Homo sapiens: one gene and its partners. The protein of the gene in region 3 purifies or fractionates together with the protein of the main gene of each other region. This does not show direct contact. Each region holds a gene or a part of one and is shown on either strand. Other genes may lie near its edges.

Region 1 (3,500 bases), on a different chromosome or scaffold from region 3:
TTTAAAAATGCACAACTGGGGCCAGGCATGGTGGCTCATGCCTCTAATCCCAACACTTTGGGCGGCCGAGGTGGGATGACTAAGCCCAGGAGTTCAAGACCAGCGTGGGTAACATGGTGAAACCCCATTTCTTCACATTAATAATTAAAATTTTAAAAATGTACAACTGACAAATCTTTTTTTCTTAGACGGAGTCTCGCTCTGTCGCCCAGGCTGGAGTGTAGTGGCGTGATCTTGGCTCACTGCAAGCTCCGCCTCCCGGGTTCACACCATTCTCCTGCCTCAGCCTCCCGAGTAGCTGGGACTACAGGCGCCCGCCACCATGCCCGGCTAATTTTTTGTATTTTTAGTAGAGATGGCGTTTCACCGTGTTAGCCAGGATGGTCTCGATCTCCTGAGCTCGTGATCTGCCCGCCTCGGCCTCCCAAAGTGCTGGGATTACAGGCGTGAGCCACCGTGCCCAGCCGACAATTCTTTTTAAATGAAGTTGAGAGTCAGTAAACTTCACTTTGCACAGCTGTGATCAAATTACTTACGGCATTTACATTTTCTCCAGACTGGGTGCCACAACCAACAACAGCTTGTTACTGAGAAGGAACAGTTCTCTGGAGTGGGGAAGACAAAGTCCAACCATGTGGACCTCTTGCCTATACTCCAGAGAGGAGGAGGTAAGAGAGATGGAGAAGAGAAGGAAATAGGGAATAAAATAATTTCCTGGAAATAGGCAACTAGTTCAGGATTTCATTTTAAAATTATCAAATAAAGCTTTAGATAATACTGAGTATTAAAATTTGTTTTTGAGGCCGGGCGCGGTGGCTCACGCCTGTAATCCCAGCACTTTGGGAGGCCGAGGCGGGCGGATCACGAGGTCAGGAGATCGAGACCATCCTGGCTAACAAGGTGAAACCCCGTCTCTACTAAAAATACAAAAAATTAGCCGGACGTGGTAGCGGGCGCCTGTAGTCCCAGCTACTCGGGAGGCTGAGGCAGGAGAATGGCGCGAACCCGGGAGGCGGAGCTTGCAGTGAGCCGAGATCGCGCCACTGCACTCCAGCCTGGGCGACAGAGCGAGACTCCGTCTCAAAAAAAAAAAAAAAAAAAAAAATTTGTTTTTGAGACAGGGTTTCGTTTTGTCACCCAGGCTGGAGGGCAGTGGCGTGATCACAGCTTACTGCAGCCTCGACCTTCCAGGCTCAAGCAATCCTCCCACATTGGCCTCCCAAACAGCTGGGACTACAGATGTGCACCATCACACCAGGCTAATTTTTGTAATTTTTTGTAGAGATGGTCTTGCTATGTTGCGGAGGCAGGTCTCAAGCTCCTAGGCTCAAGTGATCCTCCCACCTTGGGCTTCCAATAAAGTATTTTTAAACGAACTAACATAAGTATATTTTCCTCTCTAGAAACATGATATTAAAACAACCAGAGCGGTGTTTGGAACTCACAGCTAATTCTAAGTAAGGTAATTTGCTCAGAGATAGCTCTGTAAGCAAATCTAAGTTTTTAGAAATAGGAAAAAAGTTCACTCTACACATTTCTTCAATAATTCAGTGATGCCAATAAAATGTAAATGAACTCACTTCCCATAACTGTTTATATTCAAAACAGCTTCTTTATTTCTTTTCTTTTTTTAGAGACAGGGTCTCACTATATTGCCCAGGCTTGTCTCAAACTCCTGACCTCAAGCAATCCTCCCGCTTCAGCCTCTGGAGTCTCCGGGCTTACTTATGAGACACTGTGCCCGGCTTAGCTTCATTTACTTCTTGATGATTTGAAAAATACAAAGTAGTAGCAGTAGTGGTAACAATAGTAGTAATAACAATAATAACTAACACTTATGAAACACTTAGATGCTAGGTTGTAAGCACTGAAAAAGTACAGTCATGCACTGCTTAACAAGAGGGACATGTTCTAACCCTTGTCAGGCATTTCATCACCGTGTAAACATCACAGAATGTACTTACACAAACACAGATGGTATAGCCTACTACACGCCTTGGTTACAGACTATAGCCTATTGCTCCTAGGCTACAAACCTATACAGCATGTTACTGTACTGAATACTGGAGGCTGCTGTAACACAATGGTTTAAGTACTTGTGCATCTAAACATAGAAAAGGCACAGGCTGGATGTGGTGGCTCATGCCCGTAATCCCAATACTTTGGGAGGCCGAGGTGGGAGGATTGCTTGAGCAGAGGAGCTTGAGGCTGCAGGAAGCCATGATTATGCCACTGCATTCCAGCCTGGGTGACAGAAAGAACCTGCCTCTATTAAGAAAAAAAAAGAAAAGAAAGAAAAGAAAAAGATAGAAAAGGAAAAGAAAAAGAAAAGGAAAAGAAAAGAAGATAAAAGAGAAAAAAGAAAAGAAAAAAGGTAAGGCCAGGTGTGGTGGCTCGTGCCTGTAATCCCAGCGCTTTGGGAGGCCGGGGCAGGAGGATCACCTGAAGTCAGGAGTTTGACACCAGCCTGGCCAATATGGTGAAACCCTGCCTCTACTAAAAATACAAAAATTATCCAGGTGTGGTGGCAGGTGCCTGTAATCCTAGCTACTCTGGAAGCTGAGACAGGAGAATCGCTTGAACCTGGGAGGCAGAAGTTGCAGTGAGCCGAGATCATGCTATTGTGCTCCAGCCTGGGTGACTAGTGAAACTCCGTCTCAAAAAAAAACCAAAAAAAAAACAAAAGGTAAGTAAAAATATGGTGTTATAATCTTATGATACCACCATCATATAAGCAATCTGTCACTGACTGAAAATTCTTGTGCAGTACATGACTCTATATAAAGTGAAGCAAAAGCTTACAACTTATATGGTAATTCAGTTCTATCTCATTCTAGATGATTACTCACCAGCTAACATTCTGAGGACGAATAATGATCTTTCGGTAGGCCCCTGACAAGGAATAATCTCGAATTTTGTGTCTCATGTTGTCAATATCAAGATTGTCAGCTGTGAGCATTTCCCTGTAGGCTTCTTGAACTAATATAAAATACAAAAAGTTAGTTGAAATGCAGCTTGTCAGTCAAGTTATCCTGAACTAGATTATAAAGAGAGTAACAATGTAAGTTCAGTTAGACTGCCCTAATAAAATTAGTCACCTTAATTTATAATCCAAAATCTGTTCCCTGGAATCAAAATTTAGTGACTTAGTAACTAGGACTACAGGGTGTACTGAGCTTTGGTTTGGCCAATTTTTCAGTTATTTTTGCAACCAGTCATAGTACCTGTGGTGTAAGGTTCCCAAGCCAACTACAAAAGGCCATTTCATCCAAAGTTGCTAAACTGCATTTTATATGGGCTGAGAGTTGGAAGACAGCATATACAGAGGCTTCAAACTCTCTCTGGAAGAGGCAGTTATAAATAAATGTATAAAAATAAGAGACCTTGGAAAACCATCTGGCTCACCCGCGCACCTGATGTAGAGTCTTTTTTATAGCACTCAAGAGAGACAGTTTTCCAGCCTTTGCTTGCACAGTCATTAATGGGGAAATACTTCTTTG
Region 2 (3,500 bases), on a different chromosome or scaffold from region 3:
GCCTCAGCAGCAGCATGACCCTCTGGGCAGACCCCGGAGAGCCCACCCTCCCCTGGGCTAAGACTGAAGACTGACAGCCCTCAGCTGTGAAATGAGGGAACAGACCCTGGCGCCCCGGGGCTGACAGCCCTCAGCCCCCACCCCAGCCCTGCCACCTTCATGGGCAGCAAGCAAGCTGCTCCTCTCAGACACATCCATCTCACGCGCCAGGTTCTGGGGCAGGGCTGTGCTGCCTTGCAGTGCTGGAGGCCTCAGGAGAGGGCCGAGGGGTGGGCAGAGCCCTGGCCTCACGCATCTCACACGTCACGCGTCACGTGTCACACACACACTCGGCCCGAGGCAGTGCCTAGATGCTGCATGTTGGTTTCCCTGATCAAAGCCGCAGAGGGCAGCCCAGCCCCGCGACTCTCCTTCCGGGTCCCTTTCTGGCCTCTGTCTATATGCCCGATAGTCTTCCTCGGCTAATTCCAGAGCATGCCTCTGTGCTACACTGGCCATGTTTCTGTCATACACCACGCAGCCCCGCAGTGCACACTGGAGCATCACATGCTCCTCCTGCAGGTGGCTGTGACTCCCAAGCAGCTGTGCTGCCCCCCAGTAGGCACCAGGCCCTGGGCCCTCTCCAGCTTTTGCTCTGCACACAAAGCCACATGGACACCACCGTGCGGGCCTCATCCTCTGAGGCTGCCTCACCTCCTGCAGGAGGCTCAGCTTCTCCAGCTCCCACTGGTGGTCCAGAATGAGACTGTCACTCCGGGGCCTCCAGCCTGCCAGGTTCTCCTCGCCCCGGACATAGGCCACAGATGTGTCCAGGACTCGTCGGCGCCGGCGCTGCATCCCTGCATGGGGCACGTGGACATTCCACCCCTACCTGATGGGTGGCTGCTCCTCCCACCCATCCTAGAGGTCCGCCCATCTGTGAAGCTGTCTCCCCTCTGGAGTGGAGATGGGCTTCCCCTGGTCCTTGGTCCACCCTGGGGCCCAAAGAGCCATGTAGGCCTCTTCCATAGGAAGTTATCCAGCCCGGCGTCCCATGGCCATCTCGGCTGTGCCCTGGGAACCCAAGGAAGCCAGCAGGCCTGACTCTCCTCCCTCGCTCTCCTCCCATCTCAGAACAACTCCAGAAGCCACAAGGTGAGTGCTTGGGTTCTGTGAGGGATCCCCCTGCAAATGGCAGCTTCGCTGTGGTCACCCCAAGTGGGCAGAGGTTGAGCAGGCCAGGAACCCACCCAGTGAGAGCAGGGCAGATACCTACCTGGGCTGCCCGCGTCAGCCACGTGGCACAGGCTGAGCTCGTACACACCAGTCACACGGTTACTGTGGGGAGTAGAAGGAGTGACATGCAGTCACCAGGCCCCGCAACAGGGACACACAGCCAGCCTGGCTGCTGACTTGCCCCACTATCAAACGCACAGTCAGCCTGGCTGGGGTGATGGGGTGTTGAGGTCCCTGAGCTACAGCCCCTGTTCAGAGTCCTCATCCCAGACTCCCTCCGGCCCCCAGAGAAAAGATGCATTGGCTGGTCTTGCTCAGGTGCCCATGGGGCTGTGACGTGAGGCCAGGCCCCCACAGCAGCCTCCACTTTGTCCCAGCCCAAGTGGGGTACAGGCAACATGAGCACAGCATCTGGCATCTCCAGTCCCTCCACGGCGTCGAGAGCCCCTCAGGCCCCATACCCCACAGAGCAGCCCCACTGTGCCCCGGACAGATTCTGAGAGCACCTCGGCCACCCTCCCACAGACAGGTCGGTGGCATCCCACAATTACTGAGTGACCTCCAGAATGACCACAGCCAGCCCTCAAGGACACTGGATCCTGACCCCCAAGCTCTTTCCTCCCAGCTGTGCCCAGTGTGAACCTGGACACCAGGTCCATGTGGCAGACCACAGGGAGACCCACTGAAGGTGGCCACGGGTGCCCGGTAGCCTCGGCAGCCCTGCTGTCAGGGCCCTGACATTCCGGCTCATTCTCCCCCACCCCCAAGAATCAGGAGCGTGTTCAGCACGCAAGCACGGCTGGTCCTGGTGTTCGGTGTGTGGCTCCCCAAGGTGCTGACAGCCTCCAAGAAGAGCCACCCAGCAGGTCCTGTGGGAAGCTGTGTCCAGAGCCCCCTTCCAGCCACCGCCCACTTATCCAGCTCCTCCTTCAGTGCCTTGTGGGCAGTCAGTCCCATGGCACAGGTTCCGTGGTCCTCAGGGAAGAAGGTCACCGGCGGCGGGGGGGGGGGGGGGGGAACGGTGTGGCCCCAGGATCACCCACAGGAGGCCCCAGGTGGGCACCCTGGGCCTGCCCCTCCTCCCATCCGCTGCAGGCTGGCCCTCAAGTCCCTCATAGTGGTGTCAGTGTCCCCTGCAGGAACCATGGCCTCCACAGAGTCTTCATCTAGGGTGAGCAGGAGGGGACTGAGCGCAGGGAGCCAGCCAGGAGTGTGGCTGGGCCTCGCACAGGGTGAGCTGCCGGGTGGCCCAAGGACCGCTGCCAGGCAGAGCCCTGCCTGGCCCGCACCGAGACCAGGGTGGGAGTCCATGTGGTCCTCACCCCTGGGAGCTTACCTCTCTGAGGCCCGAAGGCTCCCACTGCCAAAGAGGTTGCGGATGGAGCGCGAGGCTGGCAGCTTGGCATCACGGGAATAGAAGACCATGCAGAAGTCCTTGGTGACAACAGCCGGCTGGGTGCAGTTCTCCATCTGAGATAGGCGGGAGCAGGACTCAGGCACAAGGACACCCCGAGTGCCCAGGTGCCCTTCCAGCCTTCTCCTGGGGGCACAATGCCCAGCACCGACAGGCAGCCCCAGGGCCTTCCCAGGGCCTCAGGTGTGGCCTGGACGCAGGCAGGAGAAAGTCTCTGCTCCTGCCCTCGAGAAAACCCCACTGGGGACAGGTAGCCACAGCTCTGTCCACCCCTGGGCTGCCTGAGGGACTGGTCTCCATGTGTGGGGACCCCGAGGGTCCCAGACATAGGCTCACTGCTCGGGCCTCAGCTGCCTCACCATAAAATTGGGGTGACCCCTCCCCGACCCTGGAATGTCTGTGAGGATCAAACCAGGTCTTGTTTGAATGTGCACATTTTAACCCAAACACCACAGAAAATGACTTCCTGGTGGATGACACGCTAACTGCTGAACAGCTGGCCCCTTTGTCTTCCTGAAGTGGGGGCAGCTGCTGTGCATGGCTGAAGAGTCCCAAGCACTCGCTGGGAAGAGCTCTGCCAGCGCCTCCTCACGGCAACCTCACCACCATCTGGTGAGATGGTCACACCATCCCCATGTGAAGCTGGAATAATTCGGCTGTAACTAAGGAGAGGGGATGTGCTTGCAGATGCCCCTGCCCACTGCTCCCCACCCTCCCTCTCCCTCACTACTATGACCAGCAAGAAACGCCCACACTTCCAGTCACCTCTTGCACTTGGAAGGGAGGCCACAGCCCAGGTCTGGCCACGGCCTATGTACTGCAGACTCTGGGGGTGCTGTGGGGATGGAACACTTCTGTTTTTGTGCTGCCC
Region 3 (3,500 bases):
CTATAATCTCAGCCACTTGGGAGGCTGAGGCAGGAGAATTACTTGAACTCAAGAGGTGGAGGTTGCAGTGAGCCGAGATCACGCCACTGCACTCCAGCCTGGACAACAGAGCGAGACTCCATCTCAAAAAAAAAAAAAAGACAGAATCTTGCTCTGTCACCCAGGCTGGAGTACAGTGGTTCGATGATAGCTCACTGCAACCTCAAACTCCTGGGCTCAAGCGACCCTCCTGCCTCAATCTCCCAAGTAGCTAAAACTACAGTGTGTGCCACATCTGGCAAATTTTTTAATTTTTTGTAGTGATGAGGTCTTCCTGTGTTGCGCAGGCTGGTCTCAAACTCCTGGGCTCAAGTGATCCTCCAGCCTCAGCCTCCCAAAGTGCTGGGATTACAGGCATACCAAGCTTCTTATATCCTTTTGCAGTCAAGCATTCTGACGCATGAATTTAGCAAACATAATTTTGTATGTTTAGTCTCTTTTATGTGATATCTAATGTTATTTCAACTTTTTTAATGTTATAAAAGCACTTTATTAATGGATTTTTTTTTTTTTTGAGACAGGGTCTCACTGTCGCCCAGGCCGGAGTGCAGTGGCGTGATCTCAGTTCACTGCAGCCTCTGCCTCCCAGGTTCAAACGATTCTCCTGCCTCAGTCTCCTGAGTAGCTGGGACTACAGGCGTGCGCCACCATGCCTGCTGTTTTGTATTTTTAGTAGAGATGGGATTTCACCATGTTGCCCAAGCTGGTCTCGAATTCCTGATCTCAAGTGATCCACCTGCCTCGGCCTCCCAAAATGCTGGGATTACAGGCATGAGCCACCATGCTCAGCCGTATTAATGGATTTTTAAAGCAGATAGCTGTGACAAATAGTAATCCACAAGAAAATATTGTGCCTGATTATTTCCCTTTCATATTAAAAAAAAGTTTATTAAGGAAACAGATGGTAACACAGTGGCTTGTCACCTTTGCAGGCTGTGACCCCTAAAGTGAGAGTTTTCAATGTTGGCTCCCCAGACCCCTAAAAGTTCTACAGCATCTCTTTTGTGCTACTGCAGTGGGGAGGAGGAAGAATCTGTAGTGGAGTGGGCTCTGGGTCCTTCTAACCTGCTTAACCAGAGTAACTCAATCAATTTTTATATGCTGCATTTTCAGAAGGGTTTCACGGGTTAAAAAAAAAAAAAATCATTGAAAAACCATTGCCCTGAAGCAGTGGTTCTCAAAGTACAGTATAGTACTTAGACCAGCAGCATTTAAGCATCACCCAGGCAGGATCTTATTAAAAATGCAAATTCCTAGGCCCCACCCCAGAACTACTAAATCAGAGCCTGGATGCCCAGTCTGCTGTGCTTTCATGAGCTCTCCAGATTTTGATGGGTGCTAACATTTGAGAACCATTGCTTCAAAGATTTCAGATGTTTTGTTAAAGTAGTTCTTGTTTCCTTCAAGTAGTGCTATTTTCATGGAAAACTAAAATAGAATGTTTAGATTATAAATACAAAAACATGCAAATAGTATTTTAGGATAACACTAGAATAATATTTCCTTTATAATTGTATTTAGACTAGGTGGCCATTATGTCCTATACAAGGATTATTTTTTTAAAACCCTGAAGTCTTTAATATGCAATAATTTCAGCTATGAGGTGACTTCCCAGATGGCTCTATAGAGAAGTTCTAGGGCACAGTGAAGAGTCACACCAATATTACGAATGAGGGATTCTTACTATCAATTCTTAACTAGTTTCAATCAAAACTTAAAACTCATCTGACATGTAACATACCTCTTTCATATACTGATTATATAGTGCTTCTGATGACTCTAGGTAAGCCTGTGCAGTTTCAATTTCTTCTCTTTCAGACCACAAGATACCCAGGTTATTCTGGAAAATAAAGAAAAAGAGAAACAAACAATGATATAAGACTTCCAATTAAAGTAACTTTCATAGTTTTGAAGTCAATACTTATAACCAACCAAATAGTAGAGTTGGATTACCAATGAATTAATTATTCACAATGATATTGACCTTATGTAGTGCAGCAGGTAGCTGCTAAAATTAACCCCCAATGATCCCTGCTTCGGGGTATTCATGCTCTTAGGTAACCTCTTCCCCTTGAGTACAGGCTGGTTTTAGTGATGTGCTTCTCACGACTAGACTATCACAGAAGTGATGGAAAGTCATTTCCAAGATTAGTTAACAAAACCCTTGATTTCCATTTTGGATGCTATCTATTGCCTGCTTTTTTTTTTTTTTTTTTTTTGAGACGGAGTCTCGCTCTGTCGCCCAGGATGGAGTGCAGTGGCATGGTCTCAGCTCACTGCAAGCTCTGCCTCCCAGGTTCATACCATTCTTCTGCCTCAGCCTCCCAAGTAGCTGGGACTACAGGCGCCCGCAATCACGCCCGGCTAATTTTTTGTATTTTTAGTAGAGACGGGGTTTCACCGTTTTAGCCAGGATGGTCTCAATCTCCTGACCTCATGATCCACCCACCTCAGCCTCCCAAAGTGCTGGGATTACAGGCGTCAGCCACCGCGCCCGGTCAATTGCCTGCTCCTTCTTAAGGAAGCCAACTGCCATGTTGTGAGCCACCCTATGGAGAAGCCCATATGGAAAGGAAATGAGAGAGGTCAACAGTCTGAGGCCCTCAGTCAAAAAGCCTGTGAGGAACTGAATCCTGCCAACAACCATGTGAGTAAGTTGGAAATGGATCCTCCCGGCGTCCCAGTCTTCAAGTATTACTGCGAGCCCCAGCAGGTCAACAATATGATGTGGGCCTTTGAGTAAGGAACAATCAGCTAAGCCATGGTGAGATTCTGAGATAATAGACAAAGATGGATCAGAAACATATAATACTTTCAAAATACTATGCTCTTCCAGAGAACTTTTTTTTTAAAAAAAAAAGAAATAGGCCAGGCATGGTGGCTCACGCCTGTAATTCTAGCACTTTGGGAGGCCGAGGCAGGCAGATCACTTGAGGCGAGAAGTTCAAGACCGGCCTGGCCAAAATGGTGAAACCCCATCTCTACTAAAAACATAAAAATTAGCCAGGAGTGGTGGCGTGCACCTGTAATCCCAGCTGCTTGGGGGGCTGAGGCACGAGAACTGCCTGAACCTGGGAGGCAGAGGTTGCAGTGAGCCGAGATCGTGCCATTGCACTCCTACCTGGGTGATGGAGCAAGACTCTGTCTCAAAAACAAAACCAAAACCAAAAAATTATATATATGGGCCCGGCACAGTGGCTCACACCTGTAATCCCAGCACTTTGGGAGGCCGAAGTAGGCAGATCACTTGAGGTCAGGAGTTCGAGACCAGCCTGGCCAACGTGGTGAAACCCCATCTCTACTGAAAAATACAAAAAAAATTTAGCCGAGTGTGGTGGCAGATGCCTGTAATCCCAACTACTTGGGAGGCTGAGGCAGAAGAATTGCTTGAACCCAGGAGGTGGAGGTTACAGTGAGCCGAGATCGTGCCACTGCACTCCAGCCTGGGCTACAGATTGAGA
Region 4 (3,500 bases), on a different chromosome or scaffold from region 3:
AGGTGCAGGCCAGCCACTAAGGCACAACCGGCCCGCCTCGTGCGGGAACAGACCCTTCTCCATCTGGACCCAGGCCTGGGCTGGGTGGCGGGAGAATGGTTCTTTTGCTGAATCTATGAAATGGAAACTGGCAAAACTGCCAAATGAGGGCGAGTCAGAGGCCAGCGAGATGTGTCCGGATGGGGTGAGGAAGAGCCTCCTGGAACGGCAAAGGGGAGATGCTCTAAGGTGAAGGATGAGAAAGCAGAGCCCAGGGAGTGCAGAGGGCAGGGGAGACCGGAACAAAAGCGGGAACAGCCATGGCGATGGGGGGATGGGTACAGGATCTTTGTAGCCAAAATCATCAGGAATTTTCCATGTCGTCTCCAGGGACTAGCCCTGCCCCCAGCCTCACCCCTGCAGGCCCAGCCGCTCCCGCAGCTTCAGCCAAGCCGCTGCCTCCCGGCCCCTCCCTCTCCTGCCCGGACCCTGTCCCCTCCCAGGCCGGCCACGTTCCTGCTTCCCCAGACCCCCGGCACCACCCTGGAGCCCGGAGTGCCCGGTACCCACCTGAGGGCAGGTCGAGCTCCACGCCGACCCACGTGCCCTCTTGGAAGTCGGCAGGCCCCACGTATCTCACCACGCCCGTTTTGTGGGCGCCCACGGTGACGAACTCGCCCTCTCGGAGCCACTCCGGGACCTCGTCAGCTTCCTCGGAATCAGAGGCCAGGGCCTGTCCCCCGGCGCCCGGGGCCGGCGCATTCCCCTCGGCCCCCGGGGAGCAGCCGGGGTCCCCAGCCAGCATGCGCGAGAAGGAGCGCAACTCCGAGGCCCGCACCCTCCGGACGCGGAACGGGGAGCCGGGCGCCGGGGCCTCGAGGTCGGGGCGCTCCCGACCGGGGCTCACGAGCTGCTGGGGGCCAGGGGGCTCCTCGGCGGGGACGGCCGTGGGCGGTGGGGGGTGGCTGATGGGCGCCTCGGGCTCGGCCTCAGGGGCGGTGGGCATGGACCCCGGCGGGGCCGCAGCGTCCAGGCCGGGGCCCAGGGCGTCCGACAGGGTCGCGGTGGAGACGCTGTGGGAGAAGTACCCGCTAGAGGCTTCACTCAGGGGGCTGGGGGGCCCGTCCTGTGCCTCCGGAGCCGGGGTGACCGCTGTGACAGCTATGACAGGCGGTGGGGAAGGCACTTTGGCAGGTTTGTCGCAGATCTTCAAGGCCGGGGCCCCCATCGTCTGCACCAGCACGTCAGGGCCCATCTCCGGCTGAGCCTGCAGCAGGACGGGGAAGCAGGGGCTGAGAACAGAAAACTTTCCAACACGAACCAAGCAGGCAGCTTTGACTTGGAAAAGAGCATGAGGCCAGGGGCAGTGGCTCAGCCTGTAACCCCAGTGCTTATGGAGGGCAAGACGGAAGATCGCTTGAGCCCAGGAGTTCAAGAACAGCCTGGGCAACATAGTGAGACCCCGTTTCGACAAAATAAATAAATAAAGAACATGGCTGGGACCCGGCCAGGCCCTGGTTCCCACACTGGTTCTGCCACTTAGGGCTGCATGGCCCTGGCTTCCAAAGTGATAAAGGTTGAGGGGCCGACAGTGCACCCCGCAGGCCCTGTGCTGTGTGCCCAGGCTCAAGAGCACTGACCATGGCCACAGCCCCTGCCCCATCTACTTTTTACCTTTCATACAAAATAGAATCCAGGGCCTGCCATGCAGGGCCAGCACGCTACAAAGACCAAGGCCCCTCGCCACAGAGGGCAGCACACAGTAGGTGCACGCTAAAACCCTGCTAGGGCTAGTTAGCTTTCCTCCCATGGAGACAAAGCCCCTGCCCACCCCCAACCTCACGAAGAGACTGAGTCACTAAAGAGACCAGAAGAGCACTTTTTTGTCCGGCAAAACCTAAACAATGATCTCATCGGAGGACCGGAACACACTCAGCACAGCCTGGCCAGCTCAGGCACCAACAAGGAGCCACGGGCCTGCAGCCTGGCTGGGCATCCCGAGCAAGGCAGCAGGGGGACGAGGAGGGGTACGAGGAGGGGTATGAGGAGGGGGACGAGGAGGGGGACGAGGAGGGGGACGAGGAGGGGGACGAGGAGGGGGACGAGGAGGGGGATGAGGAGGGGACAAAGGCTCCCTGTGGGCCGTGGCCCTTTCTCTCCAAGGCTGCTGCTCTGGCTGCTATGGAAAGCAGGTGCCATGTCAGGGGCTGGGGGGGCCTCGGACCCTGGAGAGAGGCCAGGAAGCAGCCCCCAGGGAGAAGCCACCAAGTGAGGCCAGCAGCTCTCCTCATGTCGGTCACTCTGTCTGAGTCACCCAGGCAGAGGACACACACACACTCAAAGCCCACATCTCATGGGGGAGAGCAGCCACCGCTTGCCCAAATCCTATTGTTTCTGGGGCATTCTTTCATCTATAACTGAAGCCATGTGAAGAGGCTGCCAGATCATCTTTCTATTCCTATTCACAGTGACCGAAGAAAAGGAGAAGGCAGGAACAGGGAATGAGATTGGTGGGGTGGAGAGCACTGCTATCCAGAAGAAATATGTTTTCCGATATTTATGGAAAAATTATTTATATTACAGGAATGGTCATTTTCCATTTGAAATACGGGATTTATTTGAATGGGGAAGCGGCTGAGATCTATACGTCTCTTACAGTTACTTGGCTTACCTCAGCAGCTTGATAAATCATGCGTTTTCCCAGGAACTGTCCTTTATATTCCCGTTTCCAGGGGCCCTCTTTTCCCCACCAACCACACTTTCAGGGTAGGAAATTAATGGCACCTCTTGAGATTAACAGCCCATTTTTGTGGTGAATCTCTAGGCTGCAAAATTTACTCAATCCAATAGATCAATAACTGTCACCAGCATAAATACTCTAAAAGATTAGGCAATCCTTCAATCATTCTTCCTTTGCACATTGTCCATGTTTTATTTATTCTCTTCTATTTTAGTTTTAATATCACTGACCCAACAGGGGAGAATACGCAAAACTATGAGAGCCGGGAATCTGAACGGTAACCAGGGTCCTGAAATGGCTTCTGTTCCCCGCCCCCACCCCGGGTAAGGCCAGCCACTGTCACTTCCCCAGGCCAGGCTCTCCCAGGATGAGGCCAGCTGCATGCCTCAGATTTGCAAGTATCATCATCCCATTGGCTTCCATGTAAGACACTGGCTTGGGCTGGGCTGGAAGGATCATGGCATTATTCTACAGCAGGCCTCCAGAGGGGAAAGCCCTCATCCAAGGCTGCACTAAGTGAAAAGGCAGGCACTGGGGGCAGAGCTGCAGAGTCAACAAAGCAGGGAGCAGGATGGTGGAAAGCACAGACTGGCACTCCAGGCCCCATCCCCACTTGACTGGAGTTGATTTGTGAGTTGAAACCCAGATGCCATCTATGGATTATACCCTTGCCACTGAAGAAGACATTTCTGGAGACTTCTGCAAAAGCCCAAGCTTGGAAAACCACCATGATGAGCTACAGAAGCTGCTGCCTTCACTGGCAAGGGGCTTGCTCTGACCA

What was found.
Region 1: the proteins of KIFBP (region 3) and PUS7 purify together in Homo sapiens (affinity purification with mass spectrometry; one large-scale study listed by BioGRID and IntAct). This does not show direct contact.
Region 2: the proteins of KIFBP (region 3) and KIF1A purify together in Homo sapiens (affinity purification with mass spectrometry; 2 studies listed by BioGRID and IntAct, with this or other methods). This does not show direct contact.
Region 4: the proteins of KIFBP (region 3) and KIF13B purify together in Homo sapiens (affinity purification with mass spectrometry; 2 studies listed by BioGRID and IntAct, with this or other methods). This does not show direct contact.

Annotation. Positions count from the first base shown.
Region 1 is NC_000007.14:105,459,772-105,463,271, forward strand, and holds part of PUS7 (pseudouridylate synthase 7 homolog), read right to left. Parts: intron 2,980-3,500; coding exon 2,850-2,979; intron 1-2,849. UniProt on the Homo sapiens protein: Pseudouridylate synthase that catalyzes pseudouridylation of RNAs.
Region 2 is NC_000002.12:240,722,720-240,726,219, forward strand, and holds part of KIF1A (kinesin-like protein KIF1A), read right to left. Parts: intron 2,686-3,500; coding exon 2,552-2,685; intron 1,318-2,551; coding exon 1,256-1,317; intron 840-1,255; coding exon 694-839; intron 1-693.
Region 3 is NC_000010.11:68,998,803-69,002,302, reverse strand, and holds part of KIFBP (KIF-binding protein), read right to left. Parts: intron 1,880-3,500; coding exon 1,781-1,879; intron 1-1,780. UniProt on the Homo sapiens protein: Activator of KIF1B plus-end-directed microtubule motor activity. Required for organization of axonal microtubules, and axonal outgrowth and maintenance during peripheral and central nervous system development.
Region 4 is NC_000008.11:29,071,071-29,074,570, forward strand, and holds part of KIF13B (kinesin-like protein KIF13B), read right to left. Parts: intron 1,247-3,500; coding exon 550-1,246; intron 1-549. UniProt on the Homo sapiens protein: Involved in reorganization of the cortical cytoskeleton. Regulates axon formation by promoting the formation of extra axons. May be functionally important for the intracellular trafficking of MAGUKs and associated protein complexes.